Linked DNA regions of Homo sapiens: all the other regions are linked to region 3. The links come from fine-mapping of genetic effects on gene expression. A gene starts in region 3. Each other region holds a variant in brackets. All regions are shown on one strand. Distances are from middle to middle.

Region 1 (4,243 bases), 44 kb after region 3:
CATTGTAACTTGCATTTCCCTGATGATTAGTGAGGTTGAGCATTTTTCCATATACTTGTTGCCTATTTGTATGTCTGTCTTCTTTTGAGACATGCCTATTCAGATCCCTTGCCACTTTTTAATTAGATTATTTGGGTTTTGTGTCGAGTTGTTTGAGTTCCTTGTATATTCTGTATATTAGTCCCTTACAAGATGAATAGTTTGCAAATATTTTCTTCTATTCTATATGTTGTCTCTTCACTCTGTTGTTTTACTTGCTATGCAGAAGCTTTCTAGTTTCATATAATCCCATTTGTCAATTTTTGGTTTTGTTGGCTGTGATTTTGAGGTCTCCGTCACAAAATCTTAGCCTAGACCAATTCCTGAAGCATTTTCCCTATGTTTGCTTCTAGCAGTTTTATGATTTCAGGTCCTACACTAAGTCTTTAATCTGTTTTTAGCAGATTTTTTTGCATATGGTAAAAGATAGGGGTATAGTTTTATTCTTCTGCATATGGCTGTCCAGTTTTCCTAGTACCATTTATTAGACAGTGTCCTTTACCCAATGTATATTCCTGGTGACTGTTAAAAATCAGTTGGCTGTAAATACATGAATGTTTTTCTGTGCTATTTATTCTCTTCATTGGTTTAGTATATATAGAAAGGATGCCTCCCACTTTGTTCTTTATGCTTACATTGCTTTGGCTATTTTGAGATTTTTTGTGGTTCCTTACAAACTTTAGGAGTATTTTTTCTATTTTTGTGAAGAATGTCATTGGTAGTTTGATAAGGATTGCATTAAATTTGTAGATTGCTCTGGGTAGTATGGTCATCTTAACAACATTAATTCTTTTGCTCCTTAAGCGTGGCATGTCTTTCTGTTTGTGTCCTCATCAATTTTTTTCATCAGTATTTTTTGGTTTTCATTGCCTAGGCCTTTTATCTCTTTGTTAAATTTTTTCCTAGGTATTTAATTTTTTTGTAGCTACTATAGTTGGGATTGCTTTTTTGATTTTTCAACTAGTTCATTATTAGTGTATAGAAATGCTACTGATTTTAGTATGTTGATTTTTGTCTCCTGCAACTTTACTGAATTTGTTTGTTCTAAGTTTTTTGGTGAAGTCTTTAGGATTTTCTATATTTAAGATCATCTTGTCTGTAAAGAGGGATAATTTGCCTTTCTGTTTTCCAATTTGGATGCCTATTTCTTTATCTTGCCTGATTCTAAGACTTCCACTACTATGTTAATAAGAGAGGTGGAAGTAGGCATTTGATTCATGTTTCAGTTCTTGGAGGAAAGGCTTTCAGCTTTCCCCTATTCATTATGATGTTAGCTGTGGGTTTGTAATATGTGGCTTATATTATGTTGAGGTATGTTTTTTCTATGCCTAATTTGTTGACAGTTTTTATCAGGATGGGATGTTAACTTATATAAAATGCTTTTCCTGCATCTATTGAGAGGATCATAGTTTTTGTCTTTCAATCTGTTGATGTGATATATCACATTTATTGATTTGCATATGTTCAACCTCCTTTGCATACCTGAGGTAGATTCCATTGATCATGGTATATTATCTTTTTGATGTGTTGCTAGGTTCAGTTTGCTAGTACTCTTGAAGATTTTTACTGTATGTTCATTAGGGACTTTTTTTGGCTGTTGTTTCCTTAGTATCAGAGTAATGCTGGTCTCAGAGGTCAAGTTTGAAAGAATTCGTGCCTCTTCATGTTTTTGGAATAATTTGAGAATTAATGTTAGTTGTTCTTTATAAGTTGAATGTAGCAGCAATGCCATCTGGTCCTAGATTTTTCACTGTTGGGAGACTTTTTATTATGGATTCAACCTCATTACTTATTATTAGTCTGTTCAGGTTTTGTATTCCTTTTTTTTTTCAAGATTGAAAAATTGCTATTTATTTAAAAAAACTTCTGAATTAAATAGGCAAATGGCAATAACTGGTATATACATTAATTCAAAGTATTTTCACTGAGCACTAAATAGAATAGTTTCCAATCTTTTCACTAAGAACCCCTTTTAAAGAATGCCCAAAACTGGCCAGTTGCGGTGGCTCAGGCCTGTAATCCCAACACTTTGAGAGGCCGAGGTGGTCGGATTACAAGGTCAGGAGTTCGAGACCAGCCTGGCCAACACAGTGAAACCCCATCTCTACTAAAAAATACAGAAAAAATTAGCTGGGCATGGTGGTGGGAGCCTGTAATCCCAGTTACTCGGGAGGCTGAGGCAGAATTGCTTAAACCTGGGAGGCAGAGATTGCAGTGAGCCGAGATGG[T/C]GCCATTGCGCTCCAGCCTGGGCAACAGTGCGAGACTCTGTCTCAAAAAAAAAAAAAAAAAAAAGAAAAGCCGGGCACGGTGGCTCACACCTGTAATCCCAGCACTTTGGGAGGCCGAGGCAGGTGGATCACGAGGTCAGGAGTTCAAGTCCAGCCTGGCCACAATGGTGAAACCCCATCTCTACTAAAAATACAAAAAATTAGCTGGGCGTGGTGGCACATGCCTGTAATCCCAACTACTCTGGAGGCTGAGGCAAAGAATTGCTCAAACCTGGAGGGGTGGAGGTTGCAGTGAGCCGAGATCACACCACTGCACTCCAGCCTGGGCGACAGAGTGAGACTCTGTCTCAAAAAAAAAAAAAAAAAGCCTAAAACTTAGTTTATTTAAGTCTTTAATCAAGAAATCTAAAGCTGCTAATCAGAGTTTTGAATCACCATTAGATGACTAGGCTAACAACCTTGAGGTCATATAATGTGGGTTTTAAAAGCTTTGTTTAAACTATACTTTCTAACAGAGGGGATTCATTGGTCTCAGGTGATTAATCACAGGTTCAAGTGCGAGATACTGTATATACATAAATAAAATAAAGTAATAGGTATCATTTATAAGGATAAATAACATATGGCCCTGGTATATTCAAGGGGAATAATGTCTTAATTTTTATGGTTGTACAATTAGTGATGGGCAGGGAGACAGATACAAATGACTGACCCACAAGGGAGAACCTAACAAGGGCAATAGAAGAGATAAAAGTCCGGTGCCCTAGGGATGCAGCAGAAAGGGTGCTGGGAGGCTTTAGGGACCAGGTGGCATCTAGGTCAGATCAAGATATGAATGGATGTCAATGTGTGTGTGTGTGTGGGAGGGACCTTCAAGGCTGGAGAAAACAAAGTGAGCCAAAACACTGAGCCACAGGAGTACTCCCTGCTCAGATGACAGTGAAGCATTTGTTCTGAGTAAAAATATGTAATCTAATAAAAGACTGCATAAAACACTGGAAAACCTCACGCAACAAGAGCAGGAAACAATGCTTGTGAGTATTTCTTAACAGCAATTCAAAAGAGTATCTGAGGTGGCCTGTGGAACGAACGAGAGAACAAAATATCTTCCTAAAGGCAGAGGCACCACATGTTCTTGGTGGAGGTTAAGTAGCCAAGGATCATACCGCAAGCCCACCTCCACTCTGAGACCCCAGTCCCTTGGAATCAAATCCACAGCAAAAATCTTACTTAATGGAAAATCTCTCCCTTCCCAAAATGTAAAACAAAAACAATATAGGCAAACAAAACTGAAAACAAAAAGAGATAATCAGAGCAAGCTTTAGCCTCTCATACTTCACCTATGCCCCAACTGCCATGTTACTGAGAAAAGGGTCTGCCCCATTACTTAAATGGATTCATTACTGCAGAACATGACAAAATTTAGCATATCACTGATCCTACTATGTCCCTCCCTATAAAAAAAAAACAAACCACACAAAATATAACCTTACCCTGAATAAAAGTCAGCATTGACCTAAGGATCCTACTGTAATGTGACTACCCTAACCCAGGAAACCTTAATCCTGTTCTGACCTATTCACACAAAAAATCCCCATTCTTAGAGCTTTGGAAGCATTACAAACATTGTTGCATTAGATTCCTCTTTTGAGGTATTCTGAAGCCTTGAAACACAGCAAATTTACATATTTTTCTATACTACCACTGAAGGGTAATTATCATAAAAGGCCTACAACCAAAATCCTCATCCCCTGATTCTTAGGCTATTTTTTTTCCCTCAGATGAAATAATAGGAAACACACACAAAAAGATGAAAGTCATACAAAAATAAAAACATAGAATCTGTAAGTGTCATCACACTAACAGTCTTAACTGTGCTAAAGAGAAAAAGAATTTATTTGGTTTACTCAAGCTCTGGGCATTTTATAAAGTACTCAAGACATTAACAGCTTATAAAAGTAGTGGAAAAAATTTAG
Region 2 (4,243 bases), 24 kb before region 3:
CTTTAGTGAGGTTATATCACACATTTAGAATAAGGTTAGATTCATTTATCACAGTCTGTTTTCCATATTAGGTCTTAAATATGCTGTTTGATTATTTTTTAATCGGCATGCAATAAAGTTCGTGCAGTATGAAAAAATAAAGTATGAAATTGACAATTGTGTAGATCACCATATATCGACTATCCCAGTACCATAGGTAAAGTTCCATCACTGTGAAAGTCACTGGTATGGTTTGGCTCTGTGTCCCCATCCAAATCTCACCTTGAATTGTATTACCATAATTCCCATGTGTTGTGGGAGGGACCTGGTGGGAGATAATTTGAATCACAGGGGTGGTTTCCCCTATACTGTTCTCGTGATAGTGAATAAGTCTCATGAGATCTGATGGTTTTATCAGGGGTTTCTGCTTTTGCATCTTCCTTATTTTTTCTTGCTGCTGCCATGTAAGAAGTGCCTTGCGCCTCCTGCCATGATTCTCAGGCCTCCGCAGCCATGTGGATCTGTAAGTCCAATTAAACCTCTTTTTCTTCCCGGTCTCGGGTATGTCTTTATCAGCAGTGTGAAAATGGACTAATACAGTCACCCTATGTGTCCCTGTGCAATTAACTGCTCCCCTCCCCCAAGTCCCTGGCAACCATTGATGTGTCTTCTGTCCTTGTAGTTTTGCCTTTTCTAAAATGTCATATGAATGGAATTACACATGTAGACTTTGGGGTTTGGCTTCTTGTTCTTGTTCTTCTTTTTTTTTGAGATGGAGTCTCACTCTGTTGCGAGGCTGGAGTGCAGTGGTGCAATCTTGGCTCACTGCAACCTCTGCCTCTTGGGTTCAAGCGATTCTGCTGCCTCAGCCTCCTGAGTAGCTGGGACTACAGGTGCGTGCCGCCACGTCTAGCTAATTTTTGTACTTTTAGTAGAGGCGGGGCTTCACCATGTTGGCCAGGATGGTCTGGATCTCCTGACCTCGTGATCCACCTGCCTCAGCCTCCCAAAGTGCTGGGATTACAGGCATGAGCCACCATGCCCGGCCTTGGGTTTGGCTTCTTTCACTTAGCAAAATGAGTCTAAGATTAATCCATGTTGTCGTGTGTATCAGTAGCTCATTCCTTTTGGTAATTATGAATAGAACTACAAGGCTGGGCATGGTGGCTCACACCTGTAATCCCAGCACTTTGGGAGGCTGAGATGGGAGGGTTGCTTGAGCGAAGGTGTTTGAGACCAGCCTGGGCAACATAGCAAGACCTTATCTCTACAATAGAAGTTAAAAACTAGCCAGGCATGGTGTCACATACTTGAGGTGCCAGCTACTCTACTCAGGAGGTTGAAGCGGAGGATGGCTTGAGCCCAGGAGGTCGAGGCTGCATTGAGCTGTGATCGTACCATTGCACACCAGCCTGGGTGACAGAGTAAGACCTCGTCACTAAAAAATAGAAAAAAAAAATGAGTAGAGTTCCTAGAAACATTTCCATACAGGTTTTTGTTTGTTCGAACATAAGTTTTCTATTCACTTTGGTAAATACCTATGAGTGGGTCATTGGCATCTCTGGGTTATAGGGGAAGTATCTGTTTAACTGGAGGAGACAGTGCCAAATGGTTTTCCAAAGTGGCTACACCATTTTGCATTCCCCACCAGCAACCAGTGAGTTTCTGTCCTCTGCATCCTTGTCAGCATTTGATGGTGTCACTTTATTTAATTTGATTTATTTTACAGTAGAGTCTATTTTCTTTTTGAGGGCAGTCTTGTTTTGGTGAGAATATTAGGTATTAACATTCAGCTAGCTAACAGAAGTTAGCTGAGGGTTTTTACTGTAAGCCAAAGTAGACATCATCCTTACCACTTCAATCAAAATGCTGTTGACAGAAGAAAGTTCATTTTGAAAATTACTCTAATCTAAGGGTCTTTCATTTCTAGAGAAGATGGTAGAAGAGGAAATTGAGAAATAAAGGGAAATATGATGTTCTTGCTATGGATTTTTTCCTTCTACACTGGAATTTTCTGACTTAGAATAAAATTCCCCTTTAAAAGCAGGTATGGGGCTGGGCACGGTGGCTTGTGCCTGTAATCCCAGCACTTTGGGAGGCCAAGGCAGGTGAATCACTTGAGGCCAGGAGTTCGAGACTAGCCTGGGCAACATGGCGAAACTCTGTCTCTTCTAAAAATACAAAAATTAGCCGGACGTGGTGGCACACGCCTGTAGTCTCAGCTACTCGGGAAGCTGAGGCATGAGAATTGCTTGAACCTGGGAGGCGGAGGTTGCAGTGAGCCAAGATGGTGCCACTGCACTCCAGCTTGGGCAATAGAGTGAGACTCTGTCT[CA/C]AAAAAAAAAAAAAAAAAAAAAAAAGCAGCTATGATTGCCTGTGGTCAAGGCTTTTGAGGGCCCAGAACCCTCATTTGGTTCTGGCATCTGAAGAGGGTTTATATTGCACCCCAGTGGGTGAAAGACCAGGCCCCCAAGGGCCCACTGTACAGAACACCCAGAGGTGGTCCAGGGCCTCTGTGCTGTTATCTTGGCCAGGAATTGTTGGAGCCTGAATCACGTGCACACACGGGAGCTTTAACAGCACAGGGAACCTACTGAAAGGTCCAATGATGTGGCTGCATCCTTTGAGCCTGTGAGCTCCATGAGAGCAGGCTCCTTGTTTCCCTGCTGTAGACTCAGAGCCTAGGACACCCTGCAACACTCAATACTGCTCAAATGTTTGACTGAATGGTACAACTGAACCAGGGCCTGCAAAGACATCACAACCATTACTTCTTGTTTGAGTCTGTTTGGGCTGCCAAGACAAAATACACAGACTGGGTGGCTTGAATAACAGAAATGTGTTTCTCACAGTGCTGGAGGCTGGGAGTTCAAGATCGAGGTGTAAGCACTCAAAATCAAGGTTTCTCTGACCCTCTCTCCTTGGCTTGCGGACAGCTGACTTCTCACCCTTTCCCCACTTGGTCCTTTCTCTGCTTTCTCTGTGCACGCCCATCCCTGGCATCCCTTCCTCTTCCTATAAGGACACCATTCCTATTGGATTGGGGCTCCACCCTTAGGACCTCATTTATCCTTATTTACCTCCTTAAAGACCCCATGTCCAGACACAGTGACATTAGGGGTTGGGGCTTCAGCACACGAGTTTTGGAGGGACACAGTTCAGTCCACTGTACCTATCCTGACCCACAGGTCCCTCCCTCTCCCTTGCCTTGCAGACCCACTTACTCTTCTGTCTCCACAGACTCCCTTTCTCTGTGACCATGGCTTTACCTCACTTGCCCTTTCAAGAGTTCACGCAACAGAAGAGGAATGTGCTGAGCGCACAGACCAGGAGCCCCGCGGTATTGCCTGCAGACCCAATTGGCTTGGCCTGGTGCCCAGGCGTCCTCTGGGTCATCCCCTCGTGGGTCTGCCACAGCCCACACCACTTCTGTGCCCTCCCCCAGCCTGTGTGGCTCGCCTACAGGCTGGCCTGGACCCTGTGGACATTCGTGAATGGCACTCCCAAACCAGAGCCTGTGAGTCCTGAATTCCCCGAAGAACCTGCCTTGCACAGTTGGGCTCAGTTGGAGGCGGCTGCCCACTCACTGGAGAAGTTCAGTCTGAGAAGAGGCCAAGGATAGGTTCTCTAAGAAGGAGGCTGGGACTTTAGAGGAATTGACTGCAGGAGAGACAACAGGCACCCCTGGCCGGCATCACACAGGACATTCCAGGCCTCTCTGTGTCTCTCTTCGTGTCTCTCTTCATCTCTCTCTGCTTCTCTGTCTCTGACTCTGTCTGCCTCTCTGCCACTGTCTCTGTCTCATCTCTTCATGATACTCTGCCTCTGTCTGTCTCTCTGCCACTGTCTCTGTCTTTCCCCGTCTCTCTGTCTCTGCCTCTGTCTCCCTGTCTGTCTCTGCCTCTGTCTCTCTGCTGCTCTGTCTCTCTCTCACCCAGGCAGGTTTTAATTCAATAAAGAAAGCATCTGTCCTTCACATAGTTCTTATTCAGTAACCACTACACACACACCCCTAACACAACACTGCTACACATACCACTGTCATACACACAATGTACACAAACACAACTGTATAACTCACATTCACCACAACCTCACTACTACACCCACTAAGCACACACACACAACCCTTCTAGACACACCCAGTGTGACATGCACACCCCCTACACACACCTCTCCACACACATACACAACCATCTCACACACACCTCTCCACGAACGTACATACATGCACACAGCCATCTCACACACACCTCTCCACACA
Region 3 (4,243 bases):
TCCTCCATTCATAAATTATTATTATTTTTTGAGACGGAGTCTGGCTCTGTCGCCCAGGCTGGAGTGCAGTGGCGCGATCTCGGCTCACTGCAAGCTCCGCCTCCCGGGTTCACGCCATTCTCCTGGCTCAGCCTCCCCAGTAGCTGGGACTACAGGCGCCCGCCAACACACCCGGCTAATTTTTGTATTTTTAGTAGAGACGGGGTTTCACCGTGTTAGCCAGGATGGTCTCCATCTGCTGACCTCGTGATCTGCCCATCTCGGTCTCCCAAAGTACTGGGATTACAGGCGTGAGCCACCGCGCCCGGCCCATTCATAAATTATTTACAATGATTTGTAATTATAAAGGAGGCAGTAATAGAACCAAGTCTCGAAGTAAAAATTTGTATCCATCCATCCAGCATTTATTCAACATTTGCCATGTGTCAAACGAGGATAATTAAGACAGCTTGTTCCCTCCCAAGAAGCTCACTATTTAGTAGTAGGCACCTGAGTTGCAAAATTAATTGAAATATCCTTTGACAGATGCATTAAGAAATATCTGAACAAAATACAGCACTACTATAAGTGAGGGTGTAAAGACCAGGGAGGCATACGATTTAGTCTTTGTTTTAAAAATATTGCTGTGGCAAGAATGTGGAGGACACACTGGATGTGGTAAACCTGGAGACAAGCCCACAGCAACAGTCTAGGTGAGAGATGAGTTCAGCTGTAACTGAGACATGCACGGGGCATGTGCAGTGGTGGACAGACAGCGTACGAGGGTGGAAGGTGCTATAGTTCGCTGAGTGGACACTGCAACCATGGGCTTCCCAAGTATTACAGGGTTATTGAGGACTAATATAATTCACATTTTATGAAGATATAAGGCTCCGAGTGGTTAATTCCTTGAGGCACTTTCAGCTAGGTTTTGGGAGAGCTGTGATTCATATTCAAATGTCTGATTTTAAAGCCCAAACTCTGGGCCTACAGCAAGAATTGGCCTAAAGCAATAATTTAATTGAAATGCACAGGACTCAGCTTACTAATAACACACAGGTAAATATGTAACATCTGCAGCGAGAGATACTGGAGGCAATATGGCACAGGGTGGCACCCCTGAGGTGGAGGCCAACAAGTTAAAAGTGTGGAATGCCTCAGTAAAGTCATGAAGACAGACTTTAAAAATGTCTACTGATTCCGGCATTTTGGGAATGCCTAGTGATCCAGCAAGTCTATTTCAGTCTAGCGGTGAAGATAAAGCGACATTACGATGGATTTAGTAATAAATAGGAGGTAGAGACAAGGAGATAACGGGTATAGATTTCTCCGGGAAAACATGGCTGTCAAGAGAGACAGGCAACATCTACAGCAGGAAGAATAGCCCAAAGGGAGGCATCCTTTTTACAGCTTTTTTAAAACTATAGGGCAAACATGAATATGCGGCAGGAGTGGAATGCAGCTAAAAAGAAAACGGATGAGGTAGTGGAAGATCCAGGGACACAAAAACTAACTGATGAAGCATGAAGAGGACGGGGCGCTCAGGTTTGGATGAATTAGCTTTTGAAAGTGAGTTTTCCACATCTGATAAATCCTTCCCTTTCCCCTTGAAGCTGAAGGTAGAGAAAGGGAAGCCGGGGTGGACTGGGGCTGGAACACGGGAAGGTCTGAAAGCGCCTCCGCGCGTGTAGAGGGGCAGTGCCGCGGAGGAGCGCCTCAGGAAGGGCATGCCCTCGCAGCACGGGCTTTTGCTGTGTCACGTGTCAGAAAGCCACGGTGACCACCACCCCGCCAGGGAGGCCAGAAGAAGTTCTGCGGCGACAATTCTCTAAAGCAGGGCTTAAGTCCAGGCTCGGTACTGACAGCCGTGTCCCTTCTTGGGTCAACACTGGGGCTAACTCTACCATGTCTCCTCCCAGCAACCCCGAAAGTCGCATGGGGGACACGACCCTCTGTCGAGCTCCACACCGACAGTCTGACCGGGGGCGGGACCAGCGCCTGGTCTCGCGGCTTTGCTGTCGCCTCCCGCGCCCACGGGCACCTCCGCCACCGTGGCAGCCGTCACGGAGCCCTTCCGCGTCCCGAGCGCCAAGGCACCTGCGAGCAGCCGCTCCAGGGCTCGAGATTGGGTGACAAGCGGCCGCCAGGCCAGGGAAAGCAGACCCGCAGGGCCCGCGCGCCTCCAGCCACCTCCGCACCCGCACGCTCCACAGGTTTCAACCAGCAAGAGCGGCCCGCGGCGCCGGGGTGGAAGTGGGGTCAAGGGGAGGTGAGCGTGCAGGACGGGGCGGGGCGCACTGACCCCGCCCAGAGGAGCGCCATGGGTGGGGACGTTACCTCCAACATGCCTCTCCTGCTCGCCCCGGCCGTGTCGATGAGAGTGTTGTCCAAGTCAAAGAAAACCGCCCGCACGCGGCTCAGCCCCATAGCGCCGGCCGCTGGCGCGAACCGTAGCCTTGCCACCGCCGCCTGCGCATGCGCAAGGCGGACTGCCCAGAGAGACGTGGGAGGAGCCGCGAAGTCACCAGACCATCTCCCGGCGCGGGTGGAATTCCCGCGATCTGTCTCATTCCCTGCGCCGCCGAGAAAAGTGAGATCCCGCGAGACTCCCAGGGTATGGTCTCTCAAGAGCCCTGGAAACGTGTGTCGGCGCCGCCGGATGCGGCGACTTCTCAGTGGCTGTGGCTGGCGTTGGTCCGAAGCGTGGTGTTCTTCCCTGGTGTCTTTCTGCTTATCTCTTTCCTCCCTGGGCCCTCCGGCGCGAGGGACCGTCATCACCTCCCCGAGAGAGGTTGTCCGCGCTGCCAGGCGCTGGGCAGCAGGCTCTCCGGGTGGCCGGGCGGGCGGCGCGGAGACGTCGGCGGGCCTGATGTCTGCCTTGAGCGCCCGCGGTCCTAGCCTGCCTGTACGCGCAGGTCACTGTAGGTGATCTGGGGACGGGGGAAGGTGGAGCCTGCGCCTTCCCGCCTCGCGCCATTTGCGGCCTTCGCCGGGGTGGAATCCCTGTCTGCCTGGGCCCGCGCCAGCACGTTTCTGAAGGATGTGACTTGGGTCTCTTACAACCCGTTTAGTACCTGTGCCCTAAGACGGAGGGGCTGTGTAGTGGCTGCCCCATGTTTTGCCCTTCCTGATTGTTTTCCTGAAACCTTGCGTTCTCAGGTCTTTGGATGCCTTTTACTCGGTTGTTTTCAGGCATAGCAAGAGGTTGAGGGACGTCGACCGCCTTTTAAACCCGCGGAAGGGCTGTAGCAACTCTTGTCTCCTAGTGCTGGCAGAACGGGGATCGTAACACTAATCTCTAATCTTTGTCTCTCTTGGGTACCTTTACTGTAATTTGGATATGTGGTCATCATTAGTGACCAGAAATTGACTGTCAGGTACAGGCCAATTACCTGATTTTGTTTAGCCAGTGAGCTAAGTGGTTTTTTTTATTTTTTAATTTATTTTTATTTTTATTTTCGAGATGGAGTCTTGCTCTGTCACCCAGTCTGGCGTGTAGTGGCACGATCTTGGCTCACTGCAACCTCCGCCTCCCGGGTTCAAGCAATTCTCCGGCTTCAGCCTCCTGAGTAGCTGGGATTACAGGCGCATGCCACCACCCCCCGGCTAATTTTTGTATTTTTAGTAGAGACGGAGTTTCACCATGTTGGCCAGGCTGGTTCTCGAACTCCTGACTTCGTGATCCACCCGTCTTGGCCTCCCAAAGAGCTGGGATTACAGGCGTGAGCCACCGCGCCTGGCTAAGGGTGATTTTTACATTTGTAAATGGATTTAAAAAATCAAAATAACAGTGTTTTGTTACACATGAAAATCAAGAAATTTTAGTGCCCATAGTTGCATTAGAACACAGCGCACACATTCATTTCTGTATCGTCTGTGGCTGCTGTTGCCATACAGAAGCAGACAGAGTTGAGTAATTGTAAGCGAGACCACGTGGCTGGAAATCCTAAAATATTCATTATTTAGCTCTTTAGAGAAAAAAATTGCCAGTCTCTCACCTCGCTGGTGGAACTCCTTAACAGACCACTGATGTTCAGTAGGTTAGATTAATTGGTTTATCTTTATATTAATAGGAGTTTCTTCTGCAGCGTTAGACTACCTACAGTTTCTATATTTTATGGAGCACAATCACAGTTGACATCTCATTGCTATGGTGGAGAATAAACCCATAGGCATTCCTCAAAACCATGACTCCTTTCTGTGCTTACCTCATTGACGTATAGGGCTAGCCTATCAATTGTGGACATTTAGATTAGCAATCAGC

Alleles and levels. Alleles are on the strand shown, and positions count from the first base shown. SD is a standard deviation of normalised expression in the study named. Not every link is listed here.
As copies of C replace CA in region 2, the expression in rectum of the gene that starts at base 2,472 in region 3 goes down (moderate effect, 0.59 SD a copy in CEDAR).

Evidence for each region. PIP is the estimated chance that this variant, and not a neighbour inherited with it, causes the effect. A credible set is the group of variants that fine-mapping cannot tell apart.
Region 1: its variant is the best candidate, but not a certain one, in a credible set for the expression of NANP in whole blood (TOPMed, PIP 0.65).
Region 2: its variant is the best candidate, but not a certain one, in a credible set for the expression of NANP in rectum (CEDAR, PIP 0.55).

Annotation. Positions count from the first base shown.
Region 1 is chr20:25,665,485-25,669,727 of GRCh38, forward strand. The region is part of intron 2 of ZNF337-AS1 (ZNF337 antisense RNA 1); the gene reads left to right. It also overlaps the pseudogene MED28P7. Among named protein-coding and RNA genes, the nearest start is that of ZNF337, 29 kb to the right of the region's middle. The variant T/C (reference allele first, on the strand shown) is at 2,268.
Region 2 is chr20:25,597,460-25,601,702 of GRCh38, forward strand. No RefSeq gene overlaps it. Among named protein-coding and RNA genes, the nearest start is that of NINL, 14 kb to the left of the region's middle. The variant CA/C (reference allele first, on the strand shown) is at 2,314.
Region 3 is chr20:25,621,543-25,625,785 of GRCh38, forward strand. NANP (N-acetylneuraminic acid phosphatase) reads right to left here and starts at 2,472. Exons shown (of 2, transcript NM_152667.3): 1 at 2,317-2,472. The coding sequence starts at 2,406. It overlaps ZNF337-AS1 (ZNF337 antisense RNA 1), which reads left to right and starts at 2,503. Exons shown (of 4, transcript NR_126465.1): 1 at 2,503-2,593. RefSeq lists enhancers at 1,745-2,420, 2,392-2,561 and a silencer at 2,162-2,221.